Linked DNA regions of Homo sapiens. The protein of the gene in region 3 purifies or fractionates together with the protein of the main gene of each other region. This does not show direct contact. Each region holds a gene or a part of one and is shown on either strand. Other genes may lie near its edges. The genes, in order: RAP1A, OCIAD1 and INSC.

Evidence for each region.
Region 1: the proteins of INSC (region 3) and RAP1A purify together in Homo sapiens (affinity purification with mass spectrometry; one large-scale study listed by BioGRID and IntAct). This does not show direct contact.
Region 2: the proteins of INSC (region 3) and OCIAD1 purify together in Homo sapiens (affinity purification with mass spectrometry; one large-scale study listed by BioGRID and IntAct). This does not show direct contact.

The regions. Positions count from the first base shown.
Region 1 is NC_000001.11:111,703,289-111,706,788, reverse strand, and holds part of RAP1A (ras-related protein Rap-1A precursor), read right to left. Parts: intron 3,454-3,500; coding exon 3,313-3,453; intron 2,447-3,312; coding exon 2,303-2,446; intron 1-2,302. UniProt on the Homo sapiens protein: Counteracts the mitogenic function of Ras, at least partly because it can interact with Ras GAPs and RAF in a competitive manner. Together with ITGB1BP1, regulates KRIT1 localization to microtubules and membranes.
Region 2 is NC_000004.12:48,840,906-48,844,637, reverse strand, and holds part of OCIAD1 (OCIA domain-containing protein 1), read right to left. Parts: intron 2,003-3,732; coding exon 1,949-2,002; intron 1-1,948. UniProt on the Homo sapiens protein: Maintains stem cell potency. Increases STAT3 phosphorylation and controls ERK phosphorylation. May act as a scaffold, increasing STAT3 recruitment onto endosomes. Involved in integrin-mediated cancer cell adhesion and colony formation in ovarian cancer.
Region 3 is NC_000011.10:15,243,777-15,247,608, forward strand, and holds the end of INSC (protein inscuteable homolog), read left to right. Parts: intron 1-2,135; coding exon 2,136-2,264; 3' UTR 2,265-3,432; downstream 3,433-3,832. UniProt on the Homo sapiens protein: May function as an adapter linking the Par3 complex to the GPSM1/GPSM2 complex. Involved in spindle orientation during mitosis. May regulate cell proliferation and differentiation in the developing nervous system.

The DNA.
Region 1 (3,500 bases), on a different chromosome or scaffold from region 3:
ACATTGCCTACCTCACAGCAGCAGATGGTTCAGTGATGAGGGCAAGTTCGAACTATAATATTTGGTTAGAAATGCTGAAAGGCCCCAGCCTAGGTTCTTCCTCATCTCTCTGAACTATAGAAAAATCTAAAGGGAACACAGAATAGAGTTTCTCAATCCCTCTCCCATTCCTAAATTGGGTTGTCTTGATTCCAATTACTATTCCAGCCTCAGCAAAGAACAATTAATTCTTGATTAAGACTACTGTGATTCTGGCATAGCCATATACTACTTTAAGAACGTTGCAAAGTGGTGTGAATAAGAGTTTTTGAAAAATTATATATATATATATATGAATGAATTAGGGGGCTCTTTAGCCAAGCAGTATGTCCTGGTGTCTGTTTTCAAATTTAAGGCCAAGAGGTGAATTTTTGAAAGTATCTCTCTATACTTCAGGCATTCAAAACTCACAAAAAAATTTACAAGGCAAAAGTTGTGTGAGGAACTATTAACTACCAAAGAAATCCTGTAGCTGGATTATTGGGTTATAAAGAGAAAAATATTAAAAGAAACTCAAATTATCTGCTCCATTCTCCCCACTCTCAAGAACTGAGCATAAAGTTTGTATGTTTTCCAAAAAGTAAAGATTCTTGAGATGGCTAATGCATTTCATTTTATGGTTTTTCTATGTTTGTTTTTATAAACCCTCGTTTATAAACTCTCTGCTTTAACAAGACTGCTATGAAAAAGTATCTCTGCTGCATTGGAAACTAATCCAGAGGAAGTTTAATAGCATGTAGGTTCTCACAAACATGTAGTGTACTGTCCTCTGGCTCCCAAAGGGAGAAGTCCTATGCACTGGACTCAGGCCCAACCCAGCCCCACCGGAGCCTGGAGTCTGATGAACTTGGTTGGTGGGTCCCATGGAGGTAAGGACAAGGACAGCAAGGAACCACATCCCGTAAGGCCAATTATCTTGTAGATAGTGACCTCATGTCACTGTTCTGCTAGCCAAACATATTCACAATTTCTAACAAATTCTTTATCAAAATCACTTTTTTTCTTTAATTATTGCTGAAAGACTTGTTCCCCCAGTAGGATGCAAACTTCTTCAGGGCAGGAATAGTGTCTGTCTGAGTGACTGTTACCTGAGGGCCTGACACAGTGCCAGACACACAATAGTCAATAAATATTTGCTGAATAAATACAATTTATAAATTTCTTGTTTTTATGTACTTGTTAAAAATGGTTTCACATAAAAAAACAAGCTTTGGCATTCTTGATTATCTGTAAAATACAGAAGTTGAAGCAAGCTTAATTTTTTTTTACCTGCCAGGTGTTTAAAGTAACCTGGTCATTTTTAAAAGTCAAATAGTCTATAAGCATAATATTAGTCAAGAAAAAGTGGCCAGCAGAACCACAGGCCAGAGAGAATAGCAAAAACAGAGGACTCATAACTTAACCCACTCTCACTCTCACCTATGTAGTTAAGTGATCTGAATTCTGACTGATTACCTGTAATGCTACAAATGGCAAAAGCAACGGCAGGAAAGAAGCCCACTCTGTTGTTTTTATTTTTTTAAAAGGCTTATGTTAAGGTTAACAAAAGCAAGGGAACTATTTAAGGTTGACTGGTGGGGACAGTTGGAAATTGCTCTAAATTTTTAGGGGCCCAGTAAACTAGTAAACTGTTGGCCCTTTACACCCAGGCATGCAGCTTATTTGCTAAGTATTCTTGTCCACAGCTGTTTTCAAGATAGTGGAGTGCTTAACCCAGTGACCCCACCCCCATGCCCCACACAAAAGCCTTGTGCATCAGCTGTATCAGGCCTAAAGGACTGAGTGAATTCCAGGTACATGTCCATACCCACACAGATTACCCACTTATGAGTCATGCACCAAAGGTGAGGTAAGACTCAGAACACAATTCTGTGATATCCATAAAAACATATTATTTTCCAACTTGACTTTACAACCTATTTATATACATTTGGGTAAATAATTATTACAATATAAGGTGATGTAACAATTTTTACACACCACTTTATCGCATATCACTTAGAGGCTTAGCAGGATTTTACACACATTCTTCAATTTTAGCTTCCTCTTTTACAATAAGGTAAATTTAAGTATCCTCATACAGCCATCAAAGTGACCTTATGCAAGCTAAAAAATATAGTTTCCAGGAATTACTTAGTGTTTCCTATAAAATTATGGAATCAAGATTGCTTAAAAGATAAAAATTTTTTCTTAAAAGTCTGGCTGTTAACTTAAAGCAAACTAAAAAGGCACTTGTTTGTGCTGCCCAGCAGTTGTAGGTTACCTCATTAACATTGATCTTTGACTTTGCAGAAGATTCTAAAAAGGCACAGTTACACCACTGTCTTGCTAAATTCTGGCCCTGCTCTTTGCCAACTACTCGCTCATCTTCCAGGTCACATTTATTGCCAACCAAAATCATTGGAACCTGTGGGAAGAAAAAAACGTAAAATGAACAATAACATACTCATTACTTAGCCTTTTAAAAAAATAAATAAGCAATTATCTGCCACCAACTGAAATGCATTAGTTGGGACCGCAAGCTTCATCAAATACTAACGAAAAGTATATGTTGAGGGGAAGAGGCGAAGGAAGAAGGAAGAGACAAAAAAAAAAAAAAAATGGAAGAGATCCTACTACATAGATATGCCAAATTATTTTAAGAATATAATCCTGGCCAGGCACAATGGTTCATGCCTGTAATCCCAGGGAGGCTGAGGTAGGAGGACTGCTTGAGCTCAGGAGCCTGAGACAAGCCTGGGTAACATAGTGAGACCTGGTCTCTACTAAAAAATTCAAAAACAATCAGCCAGGCAGGGTGGCACACACCTGTAGTCCCAACTACTCAGGGGGTTGAGGTGGGAAGATCACTTGAGCCCGGGAGGTAGACTGTGATGTGTGAATTATACCAATGGAATTTTAGAAATAAAAACACACCACTATGGATCTTAATAATGTTCTTTGAACACTGTTTCTGACACAACCATCACCTTTCAAAGCTCAACTCAGGTCCCACTTCTATGAAGTATTCTTTGGCTCCTCTTTTTCCTCTACTGCACTTTTTAACCTATAGCACAATGAGTACTTTATCACATATGTCCTCATTTTCTAAACATCTCACCACATAATTTTGAGGTTAATTTTGAAAGTTAAATTTTTTTCTTTTGGTCACAGGGGCTCTTTCAGGCATGTGGTAGATAGCTTCCAAATCCTCTACTAATAGAGAAAACAGGCACTTTTTTATTTGGCCACAGAGAGATGGCATAACATCTTACAGAGAGAAAAAATACTTACATCTTCCGTGTCCTTAACCCGTAAAATCTGTTCCCTCAGGTCCTGTAAGTCGTTAAACGTGGACTGAGCTGTAATAGAATATACTAGTGCAAAACCTTGGCCGTTCTTCATATACAAATCCCTCATTGCTGTAAATTGCTCCTATGATTTAAAAAATATGCAATTATAAATATATAAATTTCTTGAAT
Region 2 (3,732 bases), on a different chromosome or scaffold from region 3:
TCTCAATTTTTACCTTTTTTTTGAGACAGAGTCTCGCTCTGTTGCCCAGGCTAGAGTGCAGTGGCGCCATCTCAGCTCACTGCAGCCTCCGCCACCTGGGTTCAAGCGATTCTCCTGCCTCAGTCTCCTGAGTAGCTGGGACTACAGGCACGCACGACCACGCCCGGCTAATTTTTTTGTATTTTTAGTAGAGATGGGGTTTTATCATGTTGGCCAGGACGGTCTCGATTTCCTAACCTTGTGATGCACCCGACTCGGCCTCCCAATATCACTTCTACCGTACCCTCAAGTAGCCCAAAGTCTTCAACTGCACCTAAACCCAAAATCTCTAAAAAACTTCCTCCTCTTCATAACCTAATCCAAATTATAATTTCTCCTGGCTCTACTTCAGCTATTTAATGGATTTTTCACTCCTCCCTGCATGATTTTGTCTCTTCAGTTCAGTCCTGATTGCCTCTCCCAATAGTTATGCCTATTTGTCTTCATCATCAGGTCCCTCCTTCCTGGTATGTTCTTTCTTCTCATTTAATCTAAATCCTGCCCATCCTTCAAAACCCACTTCTTTCAAGAAACTTTCCTTGATTACAACAGCCCTACAAAGATCTTTCTTCTTTGAACACCTACAACTCTTAGAGTCTCTACTATACAATTTAGTAGCTTATTAAGTATGTAATTAAATTTTCTATTTGCTTCAACATATGTTCACATCCATTTGTTTCCTCCAGTGAACTACTAGCAGCTATTAAATTCTTTTGTGTAACCTTCTGCATACCTAGCTCCAATCATTATTAAATGACACACTGGATTAAAATAGATAAAAGAAGCAGAACAATAATAAACACTGTAATTTCATCCCTGTGCCAGTTTTTCCTACAAAGAATGTAATTCAAGTGGGGTTTTTTTTGTTTTGTTGTTGTTGTTGTTGTTGTTTCACAATACAGAACCAATCTCAGTCTATAAAACAGCTTAGTCTTAAGGACATATAAGTGCATACATCTTGACTCGCTTCTATGTTTAAGATTTTTGTCATGGTACTGTATTGTAATGAAGTTCTTCAGAAGTTCCTTAAATAAATTTTTACCCCAAAAATCCTCTCATTTGCCTCCAAAACTACTTTTATCAACTAATTGTGTCAAAACTAAGTACCATACATCATATCCTAATGTGAAAAGGCTAAATCTTCCAATCATTAAGTCACATTTTTGAAGGAGCCAGTTAATTAAAACAATAGGCCTCCAGGCCATCCTAAGGTCACCATCCTTTTCTGGGACACCTTCCCATTACCAGATAGATAGTTCATGAAGTAAAGGAATTAAGCAACTCTACTGCTTACTCCACTACATTTTAAATGCAGGACTCAAGACATTTAATACTCAATCTAAACTCAATTCCACTACTGTACTATTTGAGCCAATAGACTTTAGGACAAGAAAGTCTCCTCGGTGGCTCGTTAAAAATAGATCACCTGCCAGACCCCTGAGATTCTGATTTTTTAAATAATGCTAACTCACCGCCACTCATCCGCCCCAGGTGATCAGACAAAGCTGGTTTAGAGAGCTACTGATCTTTAAATCATTATATAAGAATCACTTCGAATTTGTTAAAACACAGACTCCTGGTCCCCATGAATGTGCATTCTAACAAGCTCCTAGGCAATAATGTTGCTATTGGCCCACCTAGACCAGGTTTGCCCTGCTAATACTGGTGTTTAGTTACCTTCTTGCTCTTGCAGATTGTTAATGATGCTATTAGTGCAGGAGAAATTCTCAAGTCATGATATTTGAGCCAGTGGGTCCACAGAGATAAAACGTTTAAATTCATCAATGAATTTCTACATAGTGTTTAATATGATACATTGTTATCTTTACTTTTTCTAAAGACCTGGAAAATACCACAAAACAAACATGGTATCCAAAATGCTAAATAAATTCAAATTTTAAATATTTACCTTTACTAATTAATCCTTGAGTAATCAACATACTTGTTGCAGCCAAAGGCACAGCTATAGGAAGAAAAAGACCTTGTTAACATCAACAAAAGTAAAAGATTTTGTCTAAAGTTCATTAGATAAATGAATAGCAGTAAAACCATCTAGGAATTATATTGCATAACTAAGACCTTTAAAAAAGACTGTTCCATTTTTAAAAGCTGTACTGTATACATAGTGGAAAAATTAAAGGAGCATTTTAAATTTAAGAAAACATCACAAAATATTAAACAATATAATTCATGAACCATCTAGGCTTAGGTTCCAAATAGCCAGCTGTTCATCAACAGCATCAACTAAGACAACACAGTAAAAGTGACTCAAAATTACTTCTGAAGTAAGAGAAGGGGAAAAAGTTAATGAAGGAGAGGTAAGAAACAAGTTACAAGTAAGAACCACTACTGAGTAATGACTAAATTCTGTGCATCATGCTAAGCGCCTTATGTGCATTATCTCATTTATTATACTTTTTATCATATTTCTATAAGGTAGATAATGTTATTACCACCCTTTTAAAGATAAGGAAACTGAAGCTTAGAGATGTTAAGTAATTTGCTCAAGGCCAAACAACTAGTTGAATGGTTGGTTACAGATTCTAATAAAATCTGTCTGATACCAGATCTCAAGCTTTTAAGCTCTAGTATACCATCTAAACCAAAATACAAAACATATTTGACCGTAATCATACGGTGGCTGGGGCAAAAATTAAAAAGCACATATTTTAAACACTTATGTTCTTTCTTCTAAACTAGTGAACTCCTTAAACTATATGAAAATATTACATCTATATATATATATGCCTAAAACCGAGAGTGAAAAATCCAAAACTCATAATCTCAAAGGGGGCTATAACTTAAAAACAGCTATGAATCACTGTTCTTTACACCAGCACTGTCTAACAGAATTTTTTATGATAATGGAAGTTGGTCTTTGAGTGACCAACCCTGTGATCAATTTGGTCTTGGTACTTGACTGGTAAACAGTTCCCCCCATTGATATGCGTAATTGGCTCACTGTGCCCAAACTGTTTGTACAAATACAGTTCATGCCAAACATCTGCTTTCATTCTAGGAGTCTGGAATTTTGGTACCTGTTAGGCAGAGGGTGAATAAGTGACCAGCCCCCAATAAAAACTGTGGGCACTGAGTCTCTAATGAGTTCCCCGGGTAGATACAACTTCACACATTGTTATGACTAGCTGTTGGAGAAATTTACACTCCCTGGGAAGAGAACTCTTGGGACCTGGTTTCCGCCGGACTTCACCCCATGCTCCCTTTCCTTTTATGATTTTGCTTTATATCCTTTCACTGCAAGTTATTTTAAAGTTAAATTGCTACATGTGACTACTGGCTGCCACACTGGACAGTGCTGTTCCAGACCTGAGGTTGGCAAACACGTTCTATGAAGAGCCAGATGGTAAATATTTTGGGTTTTGTGGGCCAATCTCTGTCCCAGTTACTCAATTGCCGTTTTAAAGCAAAAGCACCGAAAGACAATCCAAAAACACATGAACGTAGCTGTGTTCCAACAAAACTTTATTTTTAGATGCAAACATATGAATTTCATGTAATTTCACACGTAATGAAATATTCTTTTCCTTTGATTTCTTAACCATTTTATCTTATTTTATGTTTTTAGACAAAGTCTCACTCTATCACCAAGGCTGGAATGCAGTGGTACAATCTCATCTCACTGCAGCCTCAACCTGCCGGCTCAGATGATCCTCCTGCTTCAGCCTCCCAAGT
Region 3 (3,832 bases):
TCTCCTTCTCTACTCCTTCCTTTTTCTCTCTGCCTCCTTACCTCACCCTACCTCTCTCCTATTATCTCCCCTCCCCCTAAGGGCTCTCTCTTTTATTTTCTTTGCCACTATTTCTTTTTTTTTTTTCCTCCATCTCTTTTTTATACTTGGTCTTTTTTCTTCACCAAGTTCATCTCTGTCTGTTTTAATATTTCCTTCTTGTTCTTTTTTCTCTGTTGTCTCTTTTTCTCTGTTTCTTGGCTATTTCCCTTTTCTGTCTTATTTGCTCTCTTGATAGGTCTATGTTCTATTTCGCTCTGTCTCCTTGTCTCCCTTCTTGCTTTATTTTTATCCCTAATGATGCAAAAATGCATTGGTGGCCTTGTTTCCTCATCTTCAGAAAATCCCTGGTTCTGTTTTCATGGTGACAACTCAGGGAAAATGGGGTTATCTTTCCCAGTTGGAGCCAAGAAGAATCAGAAAGTGCTGTGAAGTTTACCCTTGTTAGTCTATGGGGTAAACCACGCCCCATGAGAGTCGAGATGTGTGTGTTAGAGGCAGTTCTGGGGAGTCTACTTCCTGTTGCTAGGGTCACAGACCCTGCTCATTAATGCACAGAGACACACGCTCCTTCTCTTTGACCTGGCCTGGACATGACAGCACCTGTGACTCCCAGCAACCAGCTCAAACTATCCTCTCTTTTCACTTTGTTGGCCTGATTTCTCAGCAACAGGCTACCTGCCATGTCCAGGTAATGAGTGGTACCCCTGCCTTGTGCTCAATATAACCTTGTATCCTGGGGTTGCAGCATCCTACCTGTGTGCATAGGTCTGAGTGCCCTGGAGTCAGACTCCTGTGTGATGTCTGGAAGGCCACTTTCCCCCTCTGAGCCCTAGTTTCCTTATTTCCAAAAGGGAGATCATGACACTTAGCTTGCAGCATCATGTAGGGATTAAGTGAGGTGCTATGGGGAGATTCTCAGTGTTTGCATTCCCTCCTTCTTTGCTTCTTTTGCCATTCTAGATATTCCCCCACTCTTTTTGCTTCCAGGGGTGGGAGAGGAGGGGCACCTTGTTCCCTGCTGTGTATATGCTCAGGAAGAGGGAAGAAATTAATATTTATCAAGCACTTAGCATGCATTGTCTCAGTTAACTGGTAAACAGGTCTAGGTAGGTGCACAGCTCACATTTAGTTTCAGGTTGCTCTATCAGCAGATCTCAATATTAAAGCACTTCGTTTATTCATTTCTTTTCAGCCAACATTTATTGAGCCCTGTGCCAACCTCTGTGTTGTCTGCTATAGATACAGAGAAATAGAAAACAAGATCCTTACTCTCGAGGAGCTCAGAGTCTAGTGTGGGAGATAAATACCTAAAAGCTAGTTATGGCCAAGTGTGAGAAGCTTGAGGTCAGCCCAGGGGCCCTGGTTGCACAGGGGAGGGAGGGATGGACTGTCTCTGCTTCAGGATAATTGGGGAAGCCTTCATGGGGGAGGTGACAATAGGCAGGAGCAGGAAGTCACTTCAAGTCACAAGTAAGAGTATGAGCAAGGAGGAGGGGGTATAGCTCAGAGGTAGAGCATTGGGCTGAAGATTAAGAATATGAGCAAGGACACATGGACACAAAATAGAAATAGCATACTCATTGCTCATTGTGTGGGGAGCTGGGGAGTGATTTTATTCTGCCAGCACCTCTCTTTCCTGTTCATCCCCCTTGCCAGGTGTTGAATTTCTCAGTAGCAGAATCCCTGTCTACTTTTACAATATGTTCTCCCTCTCTTTTCCTCTTTTTTCCATAGTGCTTTCTATAGCACCTTGCTGAATTTATGGATGAATGAATAGTTCTTGCTGTTCTAAGGTTACTCTAGGGATCTGGAAATAATAAAGACCATTATTAAGATTATTAACAGCTTTCAGATGACATCTATCTTAGTGATCAAGGTGCAAATAAAGCTAGCTGACCAAGAGATGTGGTTGCTATGTTGACCAGGTGACCAAGATGGTGACTGAGATGCCAAGTGGCTAACATGATGATCAACCCAAATTGTCTGGTAAATGCACCACTTTCTGAAATGCACATTTCAGGGTAGGTGAAGGAAATACATGTACCTGACATGGCCCAGTCTGACACGTGTCACCTCTTCTGTCTTCTCCCCAGGCTGCTCTGCGTAGATTGGCTGGGGTCTGCCCTGAAGGCCTCCAGGACTCTGACTTTCAGCAGTTGGTCCAGCCTCGGCTGGTGGACTCCTTCTTACTCTGCAGCAACATGGAGGAGAGTTTTGTGTAGTGAGTGTGGGCGAAGAAATACATTTGGCTGTTCTCACACCCCCTCTGACTATGCACCAGTGAACACATCTGAGTACATACCAGCTCTCCTCATCTTCTTATTTATACTTAACTTATTTTTGTGTGAAATAAATGGAGGACAAAATCTTAGAGCAACATCATCAAACAGTCTTTGGTCCTTGAGAATCTTCTTTGTGTTTTATTTTTTGATTTCTGTAGCTTTTCAGTTGCAGATGTTGAAATTCGTAATGACAAATATGACAAATTGTCATGGGTGATTCCACTTCATCTTATTTTTTCTACTCTCACTATACAATCTTGCCTCATTTTTTAAAACTTTGGAACCAGAGGATTTCAACTGCCTAGCAAGTTTTTTTTTTAAGTTGGATTTGCTCTTCCCAAAAATCTAAAATGAATTTAATAATTGGGTAGAATATATTGGAAAGAAGTTTCTTTTTCTTTAATAAATGGAATCATATAAAATGTATCCCGGATTTTCTTATTAAATTGTATTTTAAACTAGGTTCTTGCTTCCCAGGTTTCATTCCCCAAAAACTTTTCCAACCATTAAAAGTACACACAGAATTGTCTTGTTTTCATAGGTGTATAAATAGGTTAAGTTCTGAGTGACTTAGTGAGAAACCAAAGTGACTTTCAAAAATACACCCAAAGGCACCAGAAACCCTGCTTCCTTTGGCTTCTTTGCTTTTGTGTAACCTCCTGTTCACCTCCTGGTGAATAGAATCCTCAGATGAGGCTTATTGAATGATTGATTCCTCCTCAAAAGTATACTTGAAAGCAGTGGTGTGCTGAAGCCAGCTCATGCCCACTCACAAGGGACAACTGTGAGAATTTCTTCCTAACTCTGCACTCAGTGACCTTGCGTTGGTAGCCATGAGCTACTTCATGAGCCCTCATGTTGAAATTGGCCATAGTGGGAGTATTTACACCACAGAAATTCACAGATGCTATAAAGCACAGCTTTCGCTTTTTTTTTTTTTAGAGAGAGCTGGTTTACCAATTTCACTGCTTGAAAGTATCACAAAAATCTGGGGATCCTTTTGAAAATATAAATGCCATCATATTGTGATATAATTTATACAATATAATATAATTGTGTAAAATCATGATTATAATAATGTTTCAATAAACATTTCTTAAATTCCCAATTACTAGTTTACATGAGTTAACCTAATGAACCAAGTCCTGGGCTAAGCATCTAATTTGCATTATCCAATTTATTCCTCACAATAATCACATGAGTATTAATTAGTATATTCATATATGTTATTACATATGATCAGGTTATTAAATTACTTGCACAAGGTCAGTAGCTAGTAAGTGGTGCTAGGATTTGATTCTGGCAATAGCTATTACCAAAGCCTTTGTGCTGAAGTCATATGCTATATACAAAGGTAATGTCTAGGTCCTCCCACCTAATGTGATGATGATTATTATTATTACGATAGAAAACACTTGTGCAACATTAACCAGGTGCCATGGACTTGTTTTATATTATTCTCAGTATAGATATTAACATTTACTACTACATACCCATTTTACAGAGAA